2 separate regions of the Homo sapiens genome follow, and region 2 is linked to region 1. A link means that fine-mapping ties the variant in region 1 to the expression of a gene that starts in the linked region. Tissue or cell type: blood mononuclear cells. Region 1 holds a variant in brackets; the other region holds the start of a gene. All regions are shown on one strand. Distances are between the middles of the regions.

Region 1 (8,016 bases):
TACAGTCTTATGGTAGACAAAGATTTCCTGGACAGGACACAAAAGTATAAACCATAAGAGAGAGAAAAAAAAGATAAATTAGACTTCATTAAAATTTAAAAATTGCCTGTACTTTGAAAGGTACTATTAAGAAACTGAAAAGGCAGGCCACAGTCTGGAAGAAAATATTTGCAATGCAAATATTAGATAAAGGACTTGTACCCAACATACATAAAGAACTCTTAAAATTCAATGAAAGAAGGCAACTCACAAAAAAAAAAAAAAAAAAAGAAGAAGAAGATTTGAACAAACCCTTCAAAAAAGATGATATATAAATGGCCAGCAAATACATGAAAAATGTTCAACATTATTAGTTATCACGGAATTGTAAAGTAAGGCCACTGTGAGATATCACTTAGAAGAATATTCAGCTTTAGAAAACAGTTTGGCAGTTTATTTATCCCTTACCCTATGACCCAGCAATTCAACTCCTAGGTATTTACTAGCCTGAGAGAAATGAATCACCTAAGCCCTTTATTTAGCTTCTCACAAGTTCACTGATTCACTCTGTGACACTGGCCAGGTTCTTCCCATCTCTGGCCCTGTTTTCCATCTGTGGAAAGCAGATGTATGGGTTGGGCTAGGTCAGGGATGGCAAACGACGTTTGTCTTCAGTACAAACTCCTTATCACTGCCAGGGACTGCCCAGACTACCTCTGTGATGAGAAGGAATGTCTGATAGAAATTGAGAGCTCTGTGACCCACTAACAATGTCTGCTAGAGACATGAGAATGACCCAGAAAGGCCACATACTTCCTATATGCTATATGCCCACAAAAAGATTTGTGCATGAATGTGCATAGCAACTGTATTCATAGCAATCGAAAACTGGCAATAACTCAAATTCCAGATAGATTGTGGTACATCCACACAATAGTTTATTACCCAGTAATATGAAAACTATTAATATATGCAACAACATTGATGATTCCTTTCTTTATATTGAGTGAAGGAAACCAGAAACAACTCTATGAGTCAACGTATGTGAAACTGCCGGAAAAGGCAAAACTAAGCTATACTGACAGGAAGATCTGTGGTTGCCTGGGGCTGGGGTGAGAGAGGGGACTGGCTGGAGGTGGCAGGAGACTTCTGAGGGAATGGAAATGTTCTAAATTTTGATTGGGGCAGGTGCAGACGTTTGTCAACATTCACCAAGTTGTGGCGGGGGGCAGTGGTTCATGCCTGTAATCCCAGCACTTTGGGAGGCTGAGATGGGCAGATCACTTCAGATCAGTAGTTCGAGACCAGCCTGGCCAACATGGCGAGACCCCGTTTCCACTAAAAATACAAAAATTAGCTGGGTCGGTGGTGGGCACTTGTAGTCCCAGCTACTTGGGAGGCTGGGGCAGGAGAATCTCTTGAACCCTAGAGACGGAGGTTGCAGTGAGCCGAGATTGAGCCACTGCACTCCAGCCTGGGTGACCGAGTGAGACTGTCTCAAAAAAAAAAAAAAAAAAATTATCAAGTTGTATGTGCACTTAAAATGGAGATATATTAATATATGTCGATTGTACCTCAAAAAATGATTTTTACAGAAGTAGCTTTGAAACGTAATGAACTGTTCCACAAGCACGTGGCAGGAAGAGGGCCTGCTACCAGGTATGCTGTGGGAGAAACATGGAAGTGAGAAAGGACAGGGCACCTTCAGAAACACATTAGTTTGTAAAATCGCTCTCAGCTTTGCGAAGACCTTTCAGGCGCGCTCGGAGAGGCTGGCCAATTGCTTCTCAGATCCCCTATTAGAAATTTGACCACGGGCCTAACGGGAACAGGGCTGCCACGGAGCATGGAGAGAGGGCCTGGAGCCCAGGACAGATCATTGCTGACTTGGTTCTGAGTTCTCCATAAAAAACCTCATGGCCTTTCTCCTCCTCCAGACTCACGTGCCCCACCTCACTTCCTTAAGAATCTAGGCTCACAGCACGCAGGCAGGCAGCCATCAACCCCGAGCCCCCTTCCCCTTCTCCTTCGGGGAGAAAGCACTAGATGGAATAAGTCCCGTCAGTCCCAGCGTTCAGACATTCTCCTAAGTACTGTTCTTTTAAAAAGCTGGAAAGTTGGGTTAAGGAGTTTGGGGCTATTATTAGTGCCAAACACTATAAAAAGGAAATGCCACTGATAATCTTAGATGGCTGTATTTTCATACGGGGATAATTCAAGCTTCCTTCTTAGAGTTCTCAGTCATAAGAAACCCTTCATTAAAATACTCCCTCGGGCCATAGCCTCAAACCTAGCATTGCTCAAATCCTTTGGGACTATTCAAGTCAGGACTGACCGGGAGAACTCAGCTGGCATTTTTTAGCCCATTTTTATGGCTGCCTCCTTCTGAGTTTCTCGTGTTGTTCTACCAGAGGAAAATAACGAATGATTCAACCTATGCACAAATATTTATTTGCACTGCTTACATGGAGGCGGCATAGCAAAGGGCCTTAGGGGGCAGGCTCTTGTCAGGCTTAGCTGAGCTCTGTCCCTGTGTGGCATCAGGTAAGTTGCTCTTCCTTTCTGAGCTTCCCCTACAAAATGAGCTGTCAACCCTAGGAGCTGATGCCTGGTGCCTACCACTTAGTAAACTCTACACGAATATTAATTTGTTATTACTATCACTGTTATGCATTCAGTTACATCCACCATGGATACAGCAAAAATGCCGTTTCACCCTTGAGAATCCTACATTCCACCTTGCTACACAAAGCATACAGACAGGAGAATAAGAGAACAGCAGAAGTGATGATACCCTACCCCGTGATGAAGAAGCTGCTAAAAGGCATCTCCTTTCATCTTTCATACACTGCAGGTCCTGTGCTTTGAGTGTTATTGAGAAGCAATGTGTCAATATGTGTCAAAAGTCCTTAAAATGTGTTTGCCCTTTGACCCAGATTCCCTCTAGAAATTTTCATAAGAAAACAATTACATTTGTGAGCAGAGATTTCTCCTGGATATTACTGAGAGTAACAAAAATTTGGTAACAGTCTGTCTGAATGACTAACAACGGAAGTTAAATACATATTTAGACATTATGATTGATGAACATTTATGCAAAGCAGGTCACAAAACAATATGTGCAGTGTAGGTCCATTTCGAGGGTATGACCTGAAGTACAATTTTTAAATCGATACATAATAATTGTGCATATTTATGGGGTACATATAATTTGATACAGGCTTATAACGTGTGATGATCAAATCTGGGTAATTGGCATATCCATCACCTCAAACATTTATCATTTCTTTGTGTTGGGAACATTTCAAATTTTCTCTTCTAGCTATTTTGAAATATACAATAAATTATTGTTAACTGTAGTCACTCTACTTTACTATTGAACACTAGAACTTATTCCCTTCTATCTAACTGTATGTTCAGACCCATTAGACAACCTCTGTTCATCCCCCCCTTCCCCACAAATAGTGGTTTGTTTTTTTATTTTGTTCGCCTTCAGAAACACGTTAGTTTTATGAGAAGGAATCTTGCTCTGTCACCCAGGCTGAAGTACAGTGGCGCAATCT[C/T]GGCTCACTGCAACCTCCACATTCTGGATTTAAGAAATTCTCCTGCCTCAGCCTCCTGAGTAGCTGGGATTACAGACATACCATGCCCAGCTAATTTTTGTTTTTTTTTTTTTTTTTTTTTTCAGTAGAGATGGGGTTTCACCATGTTGGCCAGGCTGGTCTCGAACTCCTGACCTCCAGTGATTCCGCCCACCTCAGCCTCCCAAAGTGCTGGGATTACAATCATGAGCCACTGTGCCTGGCCTGAAATCGTGTTTTTGTTAAGGATTTATTGTAACCAGAAATTCTAAGAAGGAAGCTTCAATTATTTCCATATTACAGATAATATCTATATACATATATATATATATAGAAAAGGTATATAGACCTTACTCACCAATGGTTTTATTATGTGTGAGTATTTGAGTGGGTTTTTTTTTTCATTTCATTTATTTGTACTTCTATAGAGTGAGTATTGCTTTTAGATAAGGAAAAAAAACAGAAAATTAGGAAAAGCCAATTCAAATAATCTAGAAAACCGAAAGAGAGAACAAATACAGCACAATAGGCAAAGTAAGCAGTAATATGGTTTTTCCTTGACATTTGTAAGAATTCTAGGCCTTTTATTTAGCTTCCCACAAATTCACTGATTCATTCTGTGGCATTGGCCGGGTTCTTCCCATCTCTGGCCCTGTTTTCTATCTGTGGAAAGCAGATGCATGAGTTGGGCTAGGTCAGGGACGGCAAACGACTTTTATCTTGAGTACGAACCCCTTATCACTGCCCGGGACTGCCCAGACCACCTCTGTGATGAGAAGGAATGTCTGATAGAAGGTGAGAGCTCTGTGACCCACTAACAATGTCTGCTAGAGACATGAGAATGAGGAATGACCTAGAAAGGCTATCCACTTCCTGTATACTCCATAATGTAAAGGGCTCTTACAACTCTATGAATCTGGCACATCTTTAAGCAAAAATATTAATCTGAATTTGGAAAGTCATAGGGGTTGGGGGTACCTAACTACATGTATTCATTTTTGGTTAGGTTGCACTGAATGACTAATTTTCCATCTTACTTCACAGACCCCAAGACATAACTTAGGATTTACTAAAGCAGAAAATGGCCATGGTGGTGGTGTCTCAATTGTATTTGCACCCATTATGTCCAAGCCCAAGGACAAAGAATAGATCTGCAGCTGTTGTTTCAGCCTCTTCAACCTGAAACAATCTGAAAGCCACAGCTGTTGCAGGCATAAACCTGATCCTGGCTTTGTCCTTGGTTTATGTCTCATGTTTTGGGGAACTCCGAAAGCCACTCTACTGGGGTTGATTCAGAGAAGGCCACATTTATTCATTACCCTCCTGGAAAGCAGAAGTGCTAAATGCACATTTGTTAGTGGACTTTCCAGCATGGAGTGGGATCCATTCCTGTCTTGACTCAAGGCCCACAGAGGAGAGATGACATGCCTAAAGTCACGCATGAAGTTCAATCTACACCCAGCTTTGCCTGCAGGCAAGCAAACATGGATTCTTTGGTAAAAATCCACATCAGGTTGTCAGCAGCTTGTTATTTGGAGGAAGGGGCAGTCTGAAGGGCTTGACTGTATCTCAGCTGAACCACACTAATCTACCATAGCTTCCACAGAGAACAGCAGGCTGTTTTCAGGGATCTCAGCAACAGCTGTGCCTTCAAACCAAGACACTTCAGAAAAATGATCCGAAAGTGGGCCGGGTGTTTCAGCAGGATTTGGTGGGACTTTCCTACTCAAATGGCCCTTTGTGTGCTTTTAAAAGACAGGGCATTAACCTCGTGCGTGGCTAAAGCATGATGGATGACTTGGAATTCTCCATTTACATTTGGCTGGTGGCCACAGAGGAACCGTCAAAACGCCTGGGTATCGGATGGACAGTACCTGGCTTGTTCAGACTTGTTTCTGATGGAGTGAGTGGATCCCGAGGCTTTTGCTCTGCCCAGGTTTGATAAACTAAACATGGCCAGGCTGTTAGAAAGCTGACTCCAGGGTTCCTCTCACTGCAGCAAAATTCAGTGTCCTGAATCCATAGCCTCTTTAATCATCTTTGTTTATATTCAGCATCTTTATCTACTTCAGGGTTACTCTGATCTCTGCCCATTTGTTGCAAGATGTGTGTGGTCCTACCCAAGACTTGGGCAGCAGGAGCACAGGGCCTGTGCTCATGTAGCTTCTACCCAGCTCCATGAAATCACCTGCTTGATCCTTTTACCTTCTCAGTAAGATGCTTGGCAAGTGAGAGTGAATCTGGATCCGTCAGTTCTCCGGACAATCTTGTCAGGCCAGAGGGAGTCAGAAGTTGACCTTCTGCACCATGCTGGCACCATTATGTGAGAGTATGCAGCACTCTCAGGCAGGAGCTAGCTAGCGTAAATTATTAGGTTCTTTTCTGGCAGACCTGGGTCCTGCTCTTCCGTTTAAGAGGAGCTGTTTACGTCAATTGCTCCTCACTGGGCCTCAGTTTGTTCACCTTTCACTTGTGTTTTTCATGAAGCTCAAAGGAGAAAGCAAAGTGTTCTGAATGACTTTATACAAACATGAGGAGGTGGTAGTGGCCAGTACCCTCCTAACAATTGTCTCATCACATCTTGAGGAGAGAGAGAAGCTAAACACTAGTGCAAGTGGATACTTAAGTAAGATAAACTTATTTCCCTTCTAATCATTTTTTCAAGCTTGGCCTTGTTCTAGCAGCTTGGAGGATTTCAGCTGGGTGTCCCAGAGACATATAAAATAGAGCAGAGAGGGGAGGCATTGATCTATTGCTAATAACACAAGAGGGAAATACTGGAACATAACTACTGCTAATAATAATGACAAACACATTAGTATTTATTATCACCCAATACTGTGTATAATCATTAACCTTCCACAGCAATCCTGTGAGGTATGTACAATTATTATTCTTATTGTACGGAGAACTGAAGTTTGGAGAGGCGAAGTTACTTACACAGTGTCACACAGCCCTAAAAGTGATGGAGCCAGGAGTCTTTCCTAGATATGCCTGATCCCAAAGCTGATAGGTGAAAAATGTGCAGTATGAAAAGCATTCCCTGGGCTTCAAGATGATGACTGGCTTCTTTTTCTTCTTCTTCTTCTTTTTTTTTTTAATCATTATCAGGCAGCCTCCCAGCCAGAGTAGGCTCAGGGACTTCCTTGACTGGCTTCTTGCGTCACACGAGGGGCCTGTTTATATGTCCCTGAGTTTGTCCAGACTAATTCGCAATAAATAAAAACCCACTACCACCACAACCAAAAACAAAAACAAAAACCTTGAACTAGAGAACTGTTCAAGAACCAGTGAGGATGAGCCCTGCAGGAAATGGAACCAAAGACTCAAACACAGTCGGGCTCTATGTCTTCCTGTCTCTGCTTCTGTGTTGCGATGATTTGCTCCTCCCAAAGATGGGTTTTACCCAAACCCCAGAGAACACGGCCACAAGTAGATCCAGACTCACATTCTTAGAGAATCATTTTCCATGAGGAAAGCAAAATTGCCTGCCCTGGAAAGTCCACTTAGAAAAATCCTTGTGAAGGCTCTGACTGGCCTGCTGGGTAGGACACTGAGCCCTGGGCCAGTCACTGTGACCGGGTGCACTATTGTGATCAGCCGCACCAGAACCGGAGGATCTCTCAAAAGAACAGGCAGGAATGGGGGTGGTTATCACAAGCAGACAGGCAAGGTAGCAGGGATCCACTGTGCTCTGGCAGGTGGCAATGGAATTAGGGATGCCTTGGTGGCCCCTTTAATCTTGCAGCTAGCTACCTTTCATGTTTTCTTCCAATCCTAAGCTAGCTCAGGATCTGGACAGGGCGTTTGTATCTATGGAAGAAAGGACTTAACCTGAGAGTTCTACTTGACGTGGATCTTACCCCAGGATTGTTTGTCAGCAAAGTTAACGTGGTAGAGCAGAAAGAGTGCTGAGTTTGGAGGCAGACAGACTTGAGTTCAGGTCTTAATTCTTCATCACTTGCGGGGTGGTGTTGGATATGTTGTTTCACCTCTGTAAGTCTTCGATTTTTTTATTGGCTAAATAAAGATGATAACACTTATTTACAAGCTTGTTGTAAGGACTAAGTGAGATAATCACATAAACCATCAAATACACTGGCATATACTAGGTGCTTAATAAAGTGTACCTTCTACTAATTAATTCAACAAATATTTACTGAGTGTGCAATACATTGCAGGCACAGTGGTAGGTGTTAGGGATAATGCATCAAGCAAGAGATACAATGTTCCCATTCTTTTGGAGCTTCTAGTAGTGGGGGTTGGTGGGGAAAAGATAAGTGAGGAAATAAGACAATTACAGGTAATAATGAGTGCTTTGAAAAAAATAAAATTCTTTTTTTTTTTTTTTTTGAGACAAGCTCTCACTCTTTTGCCCAGGCTGGAGTGCAGTGGCACAATCTCGGCTCGCTGCAGCCTCTGCCTCCCACGCTCAAGCAGTCCTCCCACCTTAGCC
Region 2 (7,339 bases), 130 kb after region 1:
CCTTGGGAGGCCCAGGCAGGCAGATCACCTGAGGTCGGGAGTTCGAGACCAGCGTGACCAACGTGGAGAAACCCCCGTCTCTACTAAAAATACAAAAAATTAGCTGGGCATGGTGGTGCATGCCTGTGATTCCAGCTACTTGGGAGGTTGAGGCAGGAGAATCATTTGAACTCAGGAGGCGGAAGTTGCGGTGAGCCAAGATTGTGCCATTGCACTCCAGCCTGGGCAACGAGCGAAACTACATCTCAAAAAAAAAAAAAAAAGACATGGCTGGGCATGGTGGCTCACACCTGTAATCCCAGCACTTTGGGGGGCTGAGGCAGGTAGATCACTTCAGGCCAGGAGTCCAAGACCAGCACGTCCAACATGGCAAAACCCAGTCTGTACTAAAAATAGAAAAATTAGCTGGGCGTGGTGGCGTGTGCCTGCAATACCAGCTACTCAGAAGGCTGAAGCAGGATAATTGCTTGAACCTGGTAGGTGGAGGTTGCAGTGAGCTGAAATCATGCCACTGCACTCCAGCCTGGGTGACAGAGCAAAACTGCCTTAAAAAAAAAAATTAAGAGACAGCCCGTGTCCCAGTCCCTCGTCTTGCACTGCAGAATTTACATCTAAGAAGAAAATGTATTTTTGAAAGGGTGATGGCTGGCCTCATCCCTCACTAATTGACAACCCATCTGTCGATGCCATTTTTTCCCTTCCTGTTCTCACTCCACAGAAAGAGGAGATACGGTTCTTGTTTGGTAATTGCTAAAATCTCTTTGAGGAAAGAAATAAAGATGTCAACTCCTTTGGCCTGCTTTTTCATTTATTTTTCTTAGACAAATAGACTATATGAAATCTAACTTTTGTGTATATCTCTGGGTAGCCTAGGATACACATGCCCTCATCATAGCAGTGGTTCACAAACTTCTGGATGCAAAAAAAAAAATTACTTGGAATGCTTGTTTAAAATGCACATTTTTGGCTCCTCCCAGCCCCCAGAAAGGTTTGAAGCTCAACAATCTTTTTTTTTTTTTTTTTTTTTTTTGAGATGGAGTCTCGCTCTGTCAGCTCACTGCAACCTCTGCCTCTCAGGTTCAAGTGATTCTCCTGCCTTAGCCTCCTGAGTAGCTGGGACTACAGACACGCACCACCATGCCTGGCTTAATTTTTGTATTTTTAGTAGAGACGGGGGTTTTCACTACATTGGCCAGGCTGGTCTCGAACTGCTGACCTCGTGATCCGCCCGCTTCAGCCTCCCAAAGTGCTGGGATTACAGGTGTGAGCCATCACGCCCAGCCAGCAATCTGATTTTTAGCCCCAAAGGCTTCTGATATGTGTGGTTGTCAATATACAGCAGCTTCGGCAGCAAGGCCCTCGGTATACTGTGATAGGCTGGGTGGGAAGGAAGTAAGATAATGTAGCTGTTGATTGGCAATTTTAACTTAATGGTAAGTTGACAGCATTTTATATCAAAATACAAGTAGGCATTAGAGTACAAATTTTCAAGAAAACCACCCAGAGAAACGTGCTTTCTGTGGGTCTTAAATGACACTATAAAGGCTATCACTCAGTTTTGCCATATGATGTGGGGATGAGCGCTCATTTGTTGAATTGCCAGCAATTCTGCAGCTTTGAGTTTTTTATTCAGGCAGGGGGTTTTGAACAAAGTGATAAGCTGGGTTCAAAACCTGTGCCATAAAGAAACCTGTACTGCTACCAATTAGAAGCCACTGTTTGATGGTTTTTGTTTTTTTTTTTTTTTTGAGATGGAGTCTCCCTCTGTCACCCCAGCTGGAGTGCAGTGGCGCGATCTCAGCTCACTGCAACCTCCGCCCCTCCAGGTTTAAGCAATTCTCTGCCTCAGCCTCCAGCGTAGCTGGGATTACAGGCGCGTGCCACCACGCCCGGCTAATTTTTTGTATTTTTAGTAGAGACGGGGTTTCACCATCTTGGCCAGGCTGGTCTTGAACTCCTGACCTCGTGATCCACCCGCCTCGGCCTCCCAAAGTGCTGGGATTACAGGCGTGAGCCACCGCGCCCGGCCTGCTTGATGGTTTTGTCTTCGCTGTAGTATGCATTCATCCCAAGGTATATTTCAGAGTTGTATATTAATTTTCATCTTGCTCTCTAAGGTACTCTCCAGTATTCTCTTGGACTTCCTAAGTCTTAAGGAAACTGAAATGTACACAAAGCAACTAGTACAGAGAATACTAGTTGATGGCAGTTTGAGAATGTGGTGACGGGCAAGTGATGTGTGGCCTGTAGGTGAGTGGAAACATTTTGGCTCTGCTGGATGAGAAGGTTATATCTGGGCCTTCCGCGAAGAGTAGACTGTCATTTTAAAATCAACCAAAAAATATTTTGCCGAACTGAGACTATAAAGTAGCAAGTGGTATGATCAGGTCTTGGGAATTTTCCATAGTTTCCTCCAAGAGCTGGATCTTCGTTTCTTCCAATTGGTTAGCAATGCTTAGAAAGACAGTGATATAATGAATTTTCTTTGATACTAAGCACAAATTTGTTTATGCACAGGGTATAGGAAATGGAGGACAGACACCCAGTATTGGCTGACATGCATCTATTATGAGCTCTGTAGGCAGTATCTCTCCATCCTGAGGTCAGTTCTATAAGGTAGGTGCTATTTATATCATATTTCAGACGAGAAACACGCTAAATACTTTGAGCCCAGATAGGCTATTCTTCCCACCCTATCAGTAGTACTCAGCATGGAAGCAAACTGAGACATTCATTGCCTTCCTCCAGACGCTTCCTGCCAGCTCAAGCTAGGATGCGATCCCGAGCTCATTCCCGGGGAACCCAGAGTATTAACAAACACCCTAAGTGATAATGATACAGACGGGGAAACTGCGCTGGAGCAGGTCAAGCAGCAGTCGACAGCGTTAACCTGTCAGCTATGGGAGGAGGCGGTGCGAGGCGCGGGCTGGTCGGAGCCGCGTACCACGCCCCCCGGCCCGGGTGGAACGAGGACAGGTGCTGCCCTCCCGCGGCCGCTTCGGCGCAGTGCAACCCCGCGCCGCGGCTGCGCAGTGCCGCCCTCTGGCGGCTTCGTTCCTTCTTCCCATCGGCCTCGGCTTGCGGGCCTTTCAAACATGGAGGAGCGGGAGCGGGGGGCGAGGTCGGCTGGCGCCGGGAGCCCCGCGCGCCCGCCCAGCCCGCGGCTGGATGTCAGCTCTGACAGCTTCGACCCGCTGCTGGCCCTGTACGCGCCCCGCCTGCCTCCCATTCCCTACCCCAATGCCCCCTGCTTCAACAACGTGGCGGAGTACGAGAGCTTCCTCAGGACCGGAGTCCGGGGCGGCGGGCGCGGGCGCGGGCGGGCTCGGGGCGCGGCCGCGGGCTCTGGGGTTCCCGCCGCACCCGGGCCCTCGGGCAGGACTCGTCGCCGCCCGGACGCGCCCGCCCCGGACCCCGAGCGCATCCAGCGCCTCCGCCGTCTCATGGTGGCCAAAGAGGAAGGGGACGGGGCCGCAGGAGCGGGCCGGAGGGGTCCGGGTCGGAGCAGGAAGGCGCCACGCAACGTGCTCACGCGAATGCCCTGTGAGTCCGCGGGCCGGGCGGGAAGCGGGGCAGCCGCCGTCCGGAAGCTGGCTGCCGAGGGGGCGTCTGCGGGGCGGCGGTGGCCGGGCGCGGGTCTGCACGTATTGCGGGAGCGCCTTGGTGAAAATTTGCGGGGATCATCAGTGACTATGGGGTGGATCTGCTTGAGTAATGTGGGTAATGAGGGCGTGGGGAGGGTCACCCTGAGTAAGAAAAGGGGCTGTAGGAGCAACAGAGGGAGAGTGGTAAGGCTGTAGTGGTCATAAGAAGCCGTGGGAAAGGTCTTCAGCGGTAATCGGGGCCCATGGAAGGGTCACAGAGGTGATGAGCCTGCCGAGAGGGTCTACAGGATTGATGGAGGACCTGGAGAGGTGGCGGGGCTACAGAGTTTGGGGGACATCATAGGGACGTCTACAGAGGTGATGAGAGGTCTTAGAGACCACAGTGAGAGGTAAGGTGGGGCGGAAAACGGGAGACGTGGGGGAGCGCACAGCCAATATTAGGGGAAGGAGAGTATTTGGTCAGTGGGATTTGAGGATGATCGGATGGAGTGTGGGGAGATTTGTTCAGATAGCACAGGCGCATAATCCCATAACCCCTGTACATTGACAGCTCCTTCTCGAGTGCGATAAGCAGAAGGGCTGCAGAGTCTTGATACACATATGTTCACATTACTAAGTCACAAGTGCTGAAATGCAGCAGGCACAGAATGCCACTAAAACACAGACGCTGTTTTACAGCCACTCTGCCTGGCTGGGTGCAGGACTGTGTCTGTCAGGCTCATATTACCATATGTGCAGGTTATTTTAAGTTCTAAAGGTGTAAATGGCACAAGGGAATTTCTTGGAGCCTCCTCATAGATCCTTAGAGTAAAGCTGTAAACAGCAGAGGCTCTAATGTGTGAGTTAGGTCTTGTATAAATGGAATAAAAACAGCCTAAGGTTATCTCTTTTGTCATCTGGCAAGCAGTTCTGACATCTGCCCTGTGAACACAATGACCTACTTAGCCATTCAAAGCATCTGTATCCTGATAATTAAATTGTTACCTTATTAAGTCACTGTCTTTTGGATGGAGAGGTGTGCCAAGCAAGGGACTGTTTTGCTTCATTCCTAGAAATTTGTTTATTAAGAGAGAACATCCTGAAACGCTCTGTGCTGTTCCGTGTGCCTTCGTTGGATGTCTTACCATGCCACAGCATCCCTGCCCAAGCTAGGATTTACCCCGGCCTGCTTGCCTGGCTGTAACACAAAGACAGTATGCTTGTTCCCAAAATGAGAGCAGTTTGGGGGACCTTAATTTGCCTATGCAATTTGCCACCATTAGGTAGTTGAAATGCACTCCAAGTCTCATTGCAACATTTATTTCTATTTTACCAGTTATTGCTTTGCTACCAAGATTGTCAAGGGAAAGGAATATTCCTGTGTATTGCTATGTGGTGGGTGGTTTTAGCTTTCCCTATAGAGCACTTTACTGTAATGGTATGACAGTGTGTGAAGACCAGCTTTGTCAACTTCTTATGATTAAGTATATATCCCTGGAATCAAGATCTCAGAGAATATGCCCTACATACTGAAAATTTTCACCATGGCACTGCAGACAGTTGAGTGTACATGAGAGAAAGGCATTGACGTCGCACAGAGTTGATGACCTTCAGAAAGCAAGAAAACAACAGAAACATGGGTGAGGATTGGATTCATTCAAGAAAGAGTTCCTACTTGAGGGTGAAGGGTGGGAGGAGGGTGAGAATCACAAAACTACCTATTGGGTACTGTGATCACTACCTGGGTGACAAAATAATTTGTGCACCAAACCCCAGTGACACACGATTTACACCTGCAACAAACCTTTCGTGTACCTCCTGATCCAAAAACAAAAGTTGGAAGGGGGGAAAAAAAAGAACTAGGTATGTTTTATATGTATGCCACAGTTTTAATTTAAAAAAATATATGCCTACTCTAAACTCTGATTGGATACAGTTGCTCAGGAAAATCAAAATATAGATACCAGTAAGATAATACTATTTGTGGACATATACAAATGCTTTCTGGAAAAAAATGCCTATGCATTTGAGAATGCATAATCCTTTGCAAAATATTCACATAAAATGTAAGTTCCATCAGGCTGTAACAGCAAGAAGAAGCTTTGTTAGGTCATATCATCAGTGAAACATAATGAAGAATACATGAGGAGCTACATTTTGTCGCTGACTTTAAAATGATGTATTTCATCAATTCAGATCCAAGTTACCCATCCAAATTCACAGAGAGGACAGTGTGGAATGTTTATGAAAAAACAAGGAGTGCAAAATTAAGTGTAATGGTGTTTTAACTGTAAAATATTTCACTTTGTATCTCTGTCATAGAATCTCTTTGAATTCCCTTGTGGAGCAGTTGTATTCTTTTCCTTGCAGTAATAAAATTTTAAAAGTAGCCAGGCACAGTGGCTCACACCTGTAATCCCAGCACTTTGGGAGGCCGAGGCGGGCAGAACACTTGAGGCCAGGAGTTCAAGACCAGCCTGGCCAACGTGGTGAAACCCTGTCTCTACTAAAAATACAAAAATTAGTTGGGCATGGCAGCATCTGCCTCTAGTTCCAGCTGTTCAGGAGGATGAGGCACGAGAATCGCTTGAACCCTGTAAGTGGAAGCTGCAGTGAGCCGAGATCATAGGGACATCATAGAGACCTCTACAGAGGTGATACGAGGTCTCAAAAAAAAGTAATAATAAAAGTATAGGAGGCTGTTGCAATACTGGGAATACTAAAGAAGAAAAAAAGCATAGGAGGAAAGGTTTTTCGTCATCATTAAGCCTAAGCCATCACTGATACCAACAAAGAACTCACACACAAGCTGTACTTGCAAGTGGAATGCAATTGCTTTTCCTCCTTTTTAATATTGACATGCCTATAGAGATGGTAAGACAAGACTAAAGAGCATTATCCTCTTTTCCACATAATTCTAGTGTCTATATTTCTCCTTAGTATCGCAGCACCATACCTAGCCCACGGTGGTTCTGGTTTATAATTGTGCTTCAAGCAAGCTTTTTCTAGGTATATCTGTCACTGTGAAATGAACTGGTGTGTTCAAGCTCACGTCTTGACATTATAAAGCTGTAAGAAAAAGTGTTATCATTACTTTGTTTTAGCTACAGGTGTGTTGGTGTGCAGCCTGTGCCGGTGTGAACAAGTGTGTGTGGTCAATCCAAAATGCATATGACATGCAGGGTTTGGCTCCTAGACCATTGTCTAGGTGAATGGCTTGTCTCCAGTTCCAAATTCAGTTTTCCTGCAGGGAGCCTACACAGTCCTTTTACTCGCACACATCCTGCTGAGAAGGATTTCAAAACAAACCTGATTTATTGGGCCTCTGACGTGATACCATGATTGAAAATTTGTTTGAGTCCTGTTGTTGTAGTTTACTTTGATTGCTGAAATAATTTCCCACAATATGGTGTCTTGATGTTTTCATTTTAATAAAGTGATATTCTTTGGATAACTTTGACTTCACTTCCTGCAAATAAAGAGCAAGAAAATAGGCAAAATCAAGAACATCTGAGCCCTGTGTACAGCAGTAAAATGAACTCTCAAATTTGAACAGCATCTCTGTTACACAGAGGTTGCCAAAAGGGCATGAGTATGACTTACATAAAACCGAGAACAGCGGTACTTAGGCTTCAGAAAAGGCCAAGCTTAAAATTCAGCCTTGTCACTTTTCTCAGCTCATTGCAGCTGTTTCCAGTCAGCTGTCTCCAGTGCAACTAAGGAATAGTCTCAGATGATTTCTGCACCACACTGCT

The links. PIP is the estimated chance that this variant, and not a neighbour inherited with it, causes the effect.
Region 2: it holds the start of LSM11, and the variant in region 1 is fine-mapped to the expression of LSM11 in blood mononuclear cells (TOPMed, PIP 0.99).

Annotation. Positions count from the first base shown.
Region 1 is chr5:157,606,923-157,614,938 of GRCh38, forward strand. No RefSeq gene overlaps it. Among named protein-coding and RNA genes, the nearest start is that of ADAM19, 35 kb to the left of the region's middle. RefSeq lists enhancers at 4,695-4,774, 4,955-5,014. The variant C/T (reference allele first, on the strand shown) is at 3,543.
Region 2 is chr5:157,740,656-157,747,994 of GRCh38, forward strand. It overlaps LSM11 (LSM11, U7 small nuclear RNA associated), which reads left to right and starts at 3,057. Exons shown (of 4, transcript NM_173491.4): 1 at 3,057-3,543. The coding sequence starts at 3,096. It overlaps THG1L (tRNA-histidine guanylyltransferase 1 like), which reads left to right. Exons shown (of 6, transcript NM_017872.5): 6 at 1-794. RefSeq lists a silencer at 2,841-3,400 and an enhancer at 3,420-3,920.